Homo sapiens: one gene and its partner. The protein of the gene in region 2 interacts with the protein of the main gene of each other region in a pairwise test. Each region holds a gene or a part of one and is shown on either strand. Other genes may lie near its edges.

What was found. Proteins that work in one complex are often made in the same cells at the same time.
Region 1: the proteins of SGTA (region 2) and VIP interact in binary tests that used the Homo sapiens proteins (3 or more experiments, as listed by UniProt).

Annotation. Positions count from the first base shown.
Region 1 is NC_000006.12:152,753,797-152,757,028, forward strand, and holds part of VIP (VIP peptides isoform 1 preproprotein), read left to right. Parts: intron 1-369; coding exon 370-492; intron 493-1,079; exon of another isoform or gene 1,080-1,472; coding exon 1,473-1,577; exon of another isoform or gene 1,578-2,337; coding exon 2,338-2,469; exon of another isoform or gene 2,470-3,232. UniProt on the Homo sapiens protein: PHM-27 and PHV-42 are two bioactive forms from proteolysis of the same precursor protein, that cause vasodilation. PHM-27 is a potent agonist of the calcitonin receptor CALCR, with similar efficacy as calcitonin.
Region 2 is NC_000019.10:2,768,558-2,774,200, reverse strand, and holds part of SGTA (small glutamine-rich tetratricopeptide repeat-containing protein alpha), read left to right. Parts: intron 1-5,109; 5' UTR 5,110-5,132; coding exon 5,133-5,232; intron 5,233-5,643. UniProt on the Homo sapiens protein: Co-chaperone that binds misfolded and hydrophobic patches-containing client proteins in the cytosol. Mediates their targeting to the endoplasmic reticulum but also regulates their sorting to the proteasome when targeting fails.

The DNA of each region.
Region 1 (3,232 bases), on a different chromosome or scaffold from region 2:
TCTATTTTGCATAAAATATTTCTACATACGAAATTTGACTTTGCAAAGTGAAGATATTCTTGGCATAGTAAATTACACCAAAGAAGTATAGTTTGCTTAATGCTCTGATAAGATTGAATTAAGTAGCTCTTGTGTTTTGTATATTCAGCTTATAAAAGTCATATGGCATCTACTTTATAGGATAATAGGAATTTCCTATTTATACTCTCATTAACTATATGAGCCATTAAGTCAAATTATGCTATTCTCATATTATGACTGGGTAATACTTCCCAAGAGTCTAAGTATCTTATTTTAAATGGTTGCGGAACCATACACACTGTCTTCTGAAAAAAGAATGTATTATTCTCGTGTAACTTTCCCCATCAGGTTGGGTGACAGAATACCCTTTGAGGGAGCAAATGAACCTGATCAAGTTTCATTAAAAGAAGACATTGACATGTTGCAAAATGCATTAGCTGAAAATGACACACCCTATTATGATGTATCCAGGTGAGTTTATTTTTATAAAACTATCCAATGAGTTTTATTTTAGAAAATGTGTTTAAGAACTATAAACGTGCTTATTTTATCTCACCATGAAGCTATTCCGATAGCAAAACACTAGAGGTTTCTATGTGTCATGGCTTCATTCATCCTGATTTACTGCAGATCTTACAGCTGTACATAATTTTCATACTGAAAGGTTGTAACAAGCCAGGATGAACACACCATTCACTTCCATTCTGTTGCACATAATTCCAACATCACAGATTGTACCAATTCTGATAAAAGTACAGCATTTAGCATTCCAATGATGGAAGAGTTGCCAAGGAGTTTTGTCTCTATATAAAGAAAAGATACCTGATAGAGCTGTTCATTCATAGAGCTGTTTGTCTAGAGCATCATTTCAAGTACAGACCAAGTAGCTCTATAGTACTTGGTACAGACAAAGTATAAAAGGTGCTTCATTTGAAAGAGAAAAGGTGGGATGATAGGCCTTAATGCCTTCTCTATCTTAAGAGATTTTGTTTCCAAATATTTTGGAAAAAGAAAAAAAAAGGTGTACTGGGGTTTATGAACTTTCCAAAATCAGAATATTTTCCCATTGTGAATGTCTTTATTCAGTGGGGCAGACACAAAGCACCATGTACAAATAGCAGCTAATTTAAATAGATCATATTTTTACACCAATATTTCTTAGAAAGAAATAGTTATAAAGATTCAACCATGGAGGAATATTGAAATGTGCTCCTAGAAATGCCTGTTTCTTTAATTTTTCAGTGTCTTGGGCTAGAAATATAGGGTATATCTTGATATAAGTGACTAGAAGATCTCTTTTGTTAGGGTGTTAAGAAATCTCCTTTTGAACTTTAGTTTTAATGAGAAGCTTTCATAATAAGCCCATAATTTTTTTGTTATTTAATAAGCCATAATAATATTCTAGAAAGCCATTTACAAAATAATAGCTATTTTTTTCTTCCTTGTTTTAGAAATGCCAGGCATGCTGATGGAGTTTTCACCAGTGACTTCAGTAAACTCTTGGGTCAACTTTCTGCCAAAAAGTACCTTGAGTCTCTTATGGGAAAACGTGTTAGGTAAAGAGAATTTATTATTTTTATAAAATATGTTATCATTATTCAATCTGAATATTGTATTTTCACTCTTAACAAGTTATTTACTTTGTTTGAAATTGAAAACTCGTTGATAATGTTTAATTTAGTTAAATGAAATAACTTGTATTCTTCAATAACATCTATCAAGCCCATGGACTAAGACTTTTTCATAATATCATATTCATTGACTCCAGACACACATTTTTCTCAAGTAGCAATCATTTAGCAATCTGCAATCAAATTGAACAAGACTCAGTAAAACAATCAAAAAGAGATAGTACAGACTGAGGTAAATTTTAAGGTCAAACAGAATATTCTTTTTACTTCCTGCTCAAATTAAATGGAGAATTCCAAATGGCCAACAGTCAAATATTTAGATGACGTTGCTCAGGGTAGCATAGCTTCTAAAGAAGTAATTATGTTTTTTTTAAAAAAAAAAAAAATTTCTCCCAATGGCAGAGCACAACTTCAGCTATTCCCAAATTTTTATTTTTGGATGAATTATTTGCTCAGCTGTACAGAATGTGTCATAAAACAGTCCCAGGCCATGCCAAAATATGGCAGATGATTCCTTGCTTTCCTTCATCCTTAGGTTTAGTTGTATTTTTCTTTTAGTCTTTTTATGATAGAAAATTAGTTGGGTGGGAATTGCTTTTTATGTGGCTCCAAGAAACCTGGAACATGTGTGTATTTATCATTTCTTGTGAAAACTCTTTGATTTCCTTTTCCTCATGTTCCTTAGCAGTAACATCTCAGAAGACCCTGTACCAGTCAAACGTCACTCAGATGCAGTCTTCACTGACAACTATACCCGCCTTAGAAAACAAATGGCTGTAAAGAAATATTTGAACTCAATTCTGAATGGAAAGAGGAGGTAAAGAAAAAGAGAACTTGCTAAAATGAGGAATCATGACTGACTTTCAAAATAGAAGCTGCACATGGAGACCTCTCTATCTCACTTATCTAGCTATACTACGTGAAGCAGTGATTTTCAACCTTGGCTGACATTAGACTACCCCGCAGAACTTTAAAAATACAGATGTCTGGGCCTTCTCCCAAACCAATTGCCAGGAAATCGGTGTCTTCGGTGGTGTGGCCCTAGACATACATTTCTTTTAAGAGTTCCCCAGTTGACTTTACTATGCTGCCAGTGTTAAAAATGATGACTATACAGACATCTAGTCTGAATCTAAGAGCAAGTTTCATCAAAAGTGATGATTTTTAAAACATGTAAAGCATAGTCAATTGCAATTTGGTAACACATGGAACTCACTTCGTGTGCATATTCACTACTGTTATTTAATCAAATTAAACCATTAGGTATTTTGTATATTTAGATTCTGTAAAATCTATATCTCTCTATGGTGTGTAAATATTGGACACAATACATAAACAGTGTAGTGTTCTGTCTTTTTATTCCAATTGTTTTTGTTTAAGTGATGAGTATTAAGGATAATTCTGTTTGGGTGTGATCAGACAAGATGACCTCTTTGCCCACTAGATGATAATTCTGTGAGAATAATTTTAGAAACTCTAAGATTGATGAATAATTCATAGGTACTAACAAACCTCAAAGATAATTGTTTAGCCTCCCCATACACTTTCAGAGCACAGAGAACAGCACATTCATTATGTCA
Region 2 (5,643 bases):
CGTCCTGAGATGCCTGCTTGCCAGGTGTTAGTGTCGGTTTGCTGGGGCCGCGGTGACAGAGTGCCATAGACCAGGCAGCTGAAACAGAGTTCATCGTCTCTCAGTCCTGGAGGCCGGAAGTCCATGATCAAGGTTCTGTCGGGGCTCGTTCCTTGTGAGGACGTGAGGGCAATCTGGTGTCCCTGCCGTGTGGCCGCGTCACCCATCTCTGCCCTCGGTGTCCCTGCCCTGTGGCCGCGTCACCCATCTCTGCCCTCGGAGTCCCTGCCGTGTGGCCGCGTCACCCATCTCTGCCCTCGGAGTCCCTGCCGTGTGGCCGTGTCACCCACCTCTGCCCTCGGTGTCCCTGCCGTGTGGCCGCGTCACCCACCTCTGCCCTCGGTGTCCCTGCCGTGTGGCCGCGTCACCCACCTCTGCCCTCGGTGTCCCCGCCGTGTGGCCGCGTCACCCACCTCTGCCCTCGGTGTCCCCGCCGTGTGGCCGCGTCACCCATCTCTGCCCTCGGTGTCCCTGCCGTGTGGCCGCGTCACCCATCTCTGCCCTCGGTGTCCCTGCCCTGTGGCCGCGTCACCCATCTCTGCCCTCGGAGTCCCTGCCGTGTGGCCGTGTCACCCACCTCTGCCCTCGGTGTCCCTGCCGTGTGGCCGCGTCACCCACCTCTGCCCTCGGTGTCCCTGCCCTGTGGCCGCGTCACCCACCTCTGCCCTCGGTGTCCCTGCCGTGTGGCCGCGTCACCCATCTCTGCCCTCGGTGTCCCTGCCGTGTGGCCGCGTCACCCACCTCTGCCCTCGGAGTCCCTGCCGTGTGGCCGCGTCACCCACCTCTGCCCTCGGTGTCCCTGCCGTGTGGCCGCGTCACCCACCTCTGCCCTCGGTGTCCCCGCCGTGTGGCCGCGTCACCCATCTCTGCCCTCGGTGTCCCTGCCCTGTGGCCGCGTCACCCATCTCTGCCCTCGGTGTCCCTGCCGTGTGGCCGCGTCACCCATCTCTGCCCTCGGTGTCCCTGCCGTGTGGCCGCGTCACCCACCTCTGCCCTCGGAGTCCCTGCCGTGTGGCCGCGTCACCCACCTCTGCCCTCGGTGTCCCTGCCGTGTGGCCGCGTCACCCACCTCTGCCCTCGGTGTCCCTGCCGTGTGGCCGCGTCACCCATCTCTGCCCTCGGTGTCCCTGCCGTGTGGCCGCGTCACCCACCTCTGCCCTCGGAGTCCCTGCCGTGTGGCTGCGTCACCCACCTCTGCCCTCGGTGTCCCTGCCGTGTGGCCGCGTCACCCACCTCTGCCCTCGGTGTCCCTGCCCTGTGGCCGCGTCACCCATTTCTGCCCTCGGTGTCCCTGCCCTGTGGCCGCGTCACCCACCTCTGCCCTCGGTGTCCCTGCCCTGTGGCCGCGTCACCCATCTCTGCCCTCGGTGTCCCTGCCGTGTGGCCGCGTCACCCATTTCTGCCTTCACATCCACACAGTGTTCTCCCTGTGCATGCGTCTGCATCCAAATGTCCCCTTTTTATAAGGACATTGGTTATTGCTCTAGGGACCCGCCGTACACTGGTATGATGTCATCTTACCAAATTCTGTCCGCCAAGATCTTATTTCCAGGTGAGGTCGCATTCCAAGGTCCTGGCAGTTAGGACTTCAGTGTATGGATTTGGGGGACACAGTTCAGCACACGACAGTATTCAGCCCCTGGAGCCGCCTGTCAGCGTGGCTGCGCGCAGAGGGTCCCTGGGGCCCAGCTGGGGAGTGGGACCTGGCGGCAGAGACCCCTTGCACTGTGCTGGCTCAGAAGGAGGAGCCGTGGCCTCCTGGGTGCTGGGTCAGAGTTTCCTTGTAGGTGTTTGTGGCTTTAGTCACTTCTTGGAGAGCAGATCTGGGCACAGAGCAGAGAAGAATAAGAAATTATCCAGAGGCAGCTGTCACTGTAGAAGATTCCTTCAGGCCTCGCCCTTCCTCGTCCATCCCGAGGCTGGCGGCCTCTTGGCCAGGCCCTGTCTGACCCAGCCTGAATCCGAGCGTCTGATCTCAAACCTGTGCTTCTCCTCACGGTGGTTCCCCAGCTCCTGAGGCCTCAGGCCTGCCCCTTGCCTCATGCGTCTTGGCACACAGAGTGCAACTAAGAATAAGGTCCACTATGCACGGGCTGGGCCCGGCCCCGGAGGAAGGCCGGTGACACACAGCCCCGCCACCCTGTATGTCAGCCAGTGAGGGACAGAGATGGGGAAGACCCAGCTGCTCAGAGACACCAGAGGCCCTGGACAGGGAGTGGATTCCAGGGAAGGCGGCTGCCCAGCCCAGCCCGGAAGGAGCAGGTGGAGAAGGGAGGCCCAGCCAAGGGAACCTCATCGCAAGAACAGAGGATGGGGGTCCCATCCCACGGCCAGGGCCTCCCCAAGGGCTGCCCCTCCATGCGCCAGCACCACAGCAACCCCTCTCCATGCCTGCTTCTGGCCTCAGAGCAGGTTCTCCAAATGCTCCCAGTGAAACTGCACAGCCGGGCAGCGTTTCTGGAATAGCCTCAGCATGTGTTGATCTGGACACGGAGGGTGCACCAGCACCCGTCCACGTACCTGCCTGTGTGGGGGTGTTCACTCAGCGTTGTGCACGCCTGGTCTCGTACCCCTCCCCCCCCCCCCGATGGGGAGGTGCTGTCGCCATCCATGGGGGACAGAAGAGGAAACTGAGGCTCAGCAGAGTTAAGTCGCTTCCCCTAGGTCACACTGCCAAAAACAGCCAACCGAGGTCTATGCCACGAGACTCACCACGAGGAATCATGATTTTTTTTTTTTGACATGGAGTCTCACTCTGTTGCCAGGCTGGAGTGCAGTGGTGTGATCTCAGCTCACTGCAACCTCCAACTCCCTGGTTCAAGTGATTCTCCTGCCTCAGCCTCCCGAGTAGCTGGGATTACAGGCACGTGCCACCATGCCAGCTAATTTTTGTATTTTTAGTAGAGATGGGGTTTCACCGTGTTTGGCCAGGATGGTCTCTGTCTCCTGACCTCGTGATCTGCCTGCCTCGGCCTCCCAAAGTGCTGGGATTACAGGCGTGAGCCACCACGCCTGGCAGAATCGTGATATTAACAACAGATATCGCAGGGCGCCAAGCGCTGGGCTGACAGCTTCCGGGTTATTTTTTCCCCGACCCCTGACAGCAGCCACAATGGAGCTCCCCATTTTACAGACATGGAGGCGGAGGCTCAGGCCGAACAACCCGTCCGAGCTCACAGGCTTTGCAGGCCACGATCCGGGAACCGCCTGGCCTCTCCCTCACAACCCGGCTGGCTTAAAACAACCAAGATTGATTTCCCTCGCAGTTCTGGAGGCCAGAAGTCTGAGATGAAGGTGCAGGCTGGGCCACGTTCCCTCTGAAGGCCCCAAGGGAGGCTCCGTCCTGCCTCTTCCAGCTGCTGGGGGCCAGCGAGCCTCACCTCTCTTCGTGTGGCCACATGGCCTCAGCCTCTGCCTCCGTCTTCACGCGGCCGTCTCCGTGCGGCCATGTTCAATCCCTGCATTAGGGCCACCACAGCGACCTCATCTCCACTTGTTTCCATCTGCAAAGACACAGACAAGGTCCCGTGCTCAGGTCCCAGGTGGACGTGACTAGCCCAGAACTTGGCTGCTCCAGCGGCGGGGGCGGGGGCGGCTGCTTCTCCACGCAGCTTGTTACATCTGAATGTTTAGAGTCACCATCGCCAGCCTTCGGGGGAAATGGAGGCACAGTGAGGCCAAGCCTTCCTGAGCTGGCGCCTCAAGGCAGCCGGCCAGCCTGCCCCGGGGGAAGCTCACGTCGGGGCTTCCTGCTCAGAGCCGTGAAGGTCACTGTGGCCGAGGCCCCTCCAAGTTGGCCCAGGCACCCAGGAAACCTGTGTGAAAGGTCTTGTACTAAAAAAAGACCTGTCCATAGACTACAGCTCCAGATTCCAGAACAGCCTCTCCTGATGTCACCATCTGGCACCCTTTAGAGCTTTGGCAGGAAACTGCAGGGACCACAGACATGAGCAGAAGCAGCTGTCAAGTCCTGGGAATGAGGAACAAGACAGGGTATCCGAGGGGGGACCAGGCGGATGTCCGAGGGGGAACCAGGAGGGTTTCTGAGAGGGAACCAGGAGGGTGTCCGAGGGGGCATCCAGGAGGGTATCCGGGGGGGAACCAGGCGGGTGTCCGAGGGGGGCACAGGCGGGTGTCCGAGGGGGGCACAGGCGGGTGTCCGAGGGGGGAACCAGGCGGGTGTCCGAGGGGGGAACTAGGCGGGTGTCCGAGGGGGGAACCAGGCGGGTGTCCGGTGGGGGAACCAGGCTGGTGTCCGCTGGGGGAACCAGGAGGGTGTCCGGTGGGGGAACCAGGCTGGTGTCCGCTGGGGGAACCAGGAGGGTGTCCGCTGGGGGAACCAGGAGGGTGTCAGGTGGGGGAACCAGGCGGGTGTCCGAGGGGGGCACAGGAGGGTGTCCGAGGGGGAACTAGAGGGGGGTCTGAGGTGGAATGAGGTAGGTAGGCCTCCCAGGGGGAACAAGACGGGTCCCCAAGAAGTCCCTGGGGGGAGTCCTCTGCAAGTCCTGTGAAACAGTGATACCAGGGCAGGCACACCTGGCCCCGTTGGGTACCTAAGAAATGCTTGCTGACATGCCACAAAAGAGGTAAATTGAGGAAAGGGGCAGTGGCTCTGGCTGAGGACAAGGTCTCTCCCTCTCAGCACTGTGGACATTGGGGCTGGATCGTTCTCTGGAGTGGAGCTGTCCTGGGCACTGCAGGGTGCTGGGCAGCATCCCTGGCCCCCACCCACCTCATGCCAGAAGCAGGGGCGGAGGGGACCTCCGTGGCGCCTCAGTACCACCCTGGGAGTGCTCAGGAGGCCCTGGGAGCACGCGGGTTCTCTAGGGCAGGCCCTGCTTGCCTGCTGGCCTCACACTTTCTGGCTGTGTGCATAGCCGGATTGGTGAGCTCTGGGCCTCAGGTCATCATCTGTGAAATGGGCGTATTAAGGCCTTTCTACCTGGGCTGTCCTGGAGCTGAGATCAGCCAGCACCCTTAAAGTGAGGCCCAGCTAGTTAGGGGCAGGCCTGGGGTGCCTGGAGTGGGGAGTGTGAGGGGGCCTGATGGGGGTTTTTCCTGCACCCCCAGGTATCACCTCTTCTGGGCTCAAGATGGACAACAAGAAGCGCCTGGCCTACGCCATCATCCAGTTCCTGCATGACCAGCTCCGGCACGGGGGCCTCTCGTCCGATGCTCAGGAGAGCTTGGAAGGTAGGTGGGTGCCTGCCACTTCCCCCTCTCCCCGGGCAGCGGCCAGCACAGTCGCCTCGTGTAGACACCTGGTGTGTAGATGCCTGGTCCCCCGCCTGGCTTTTTGGGGGTGGAAGCTAAGCCCAGAGAGGGCAGGGGTCTGCCCAGGGCCACACAGCCCCCGGCCGTGGGAGCCAGGGCCGAGCTGAGCCCTCCCGCCTGCCACTGCGTGGCGCCACCACTGCTTGATGCCTTCAGGCTGAGCTGCCTTCCAGTGGCTTTTTTCCATCTCCCCATCTTCCACCAAGGTGTGTTCTGGAATGTTCTCACCACCCAGTGTGTGTGTGTCACCATCGGTCACGGGGAAAAAGCTCTCCTAGTGCTGGCCCCGCCCCAGAGTCCCAGACTCGTTGGCATCCTGCATGGCCTGTC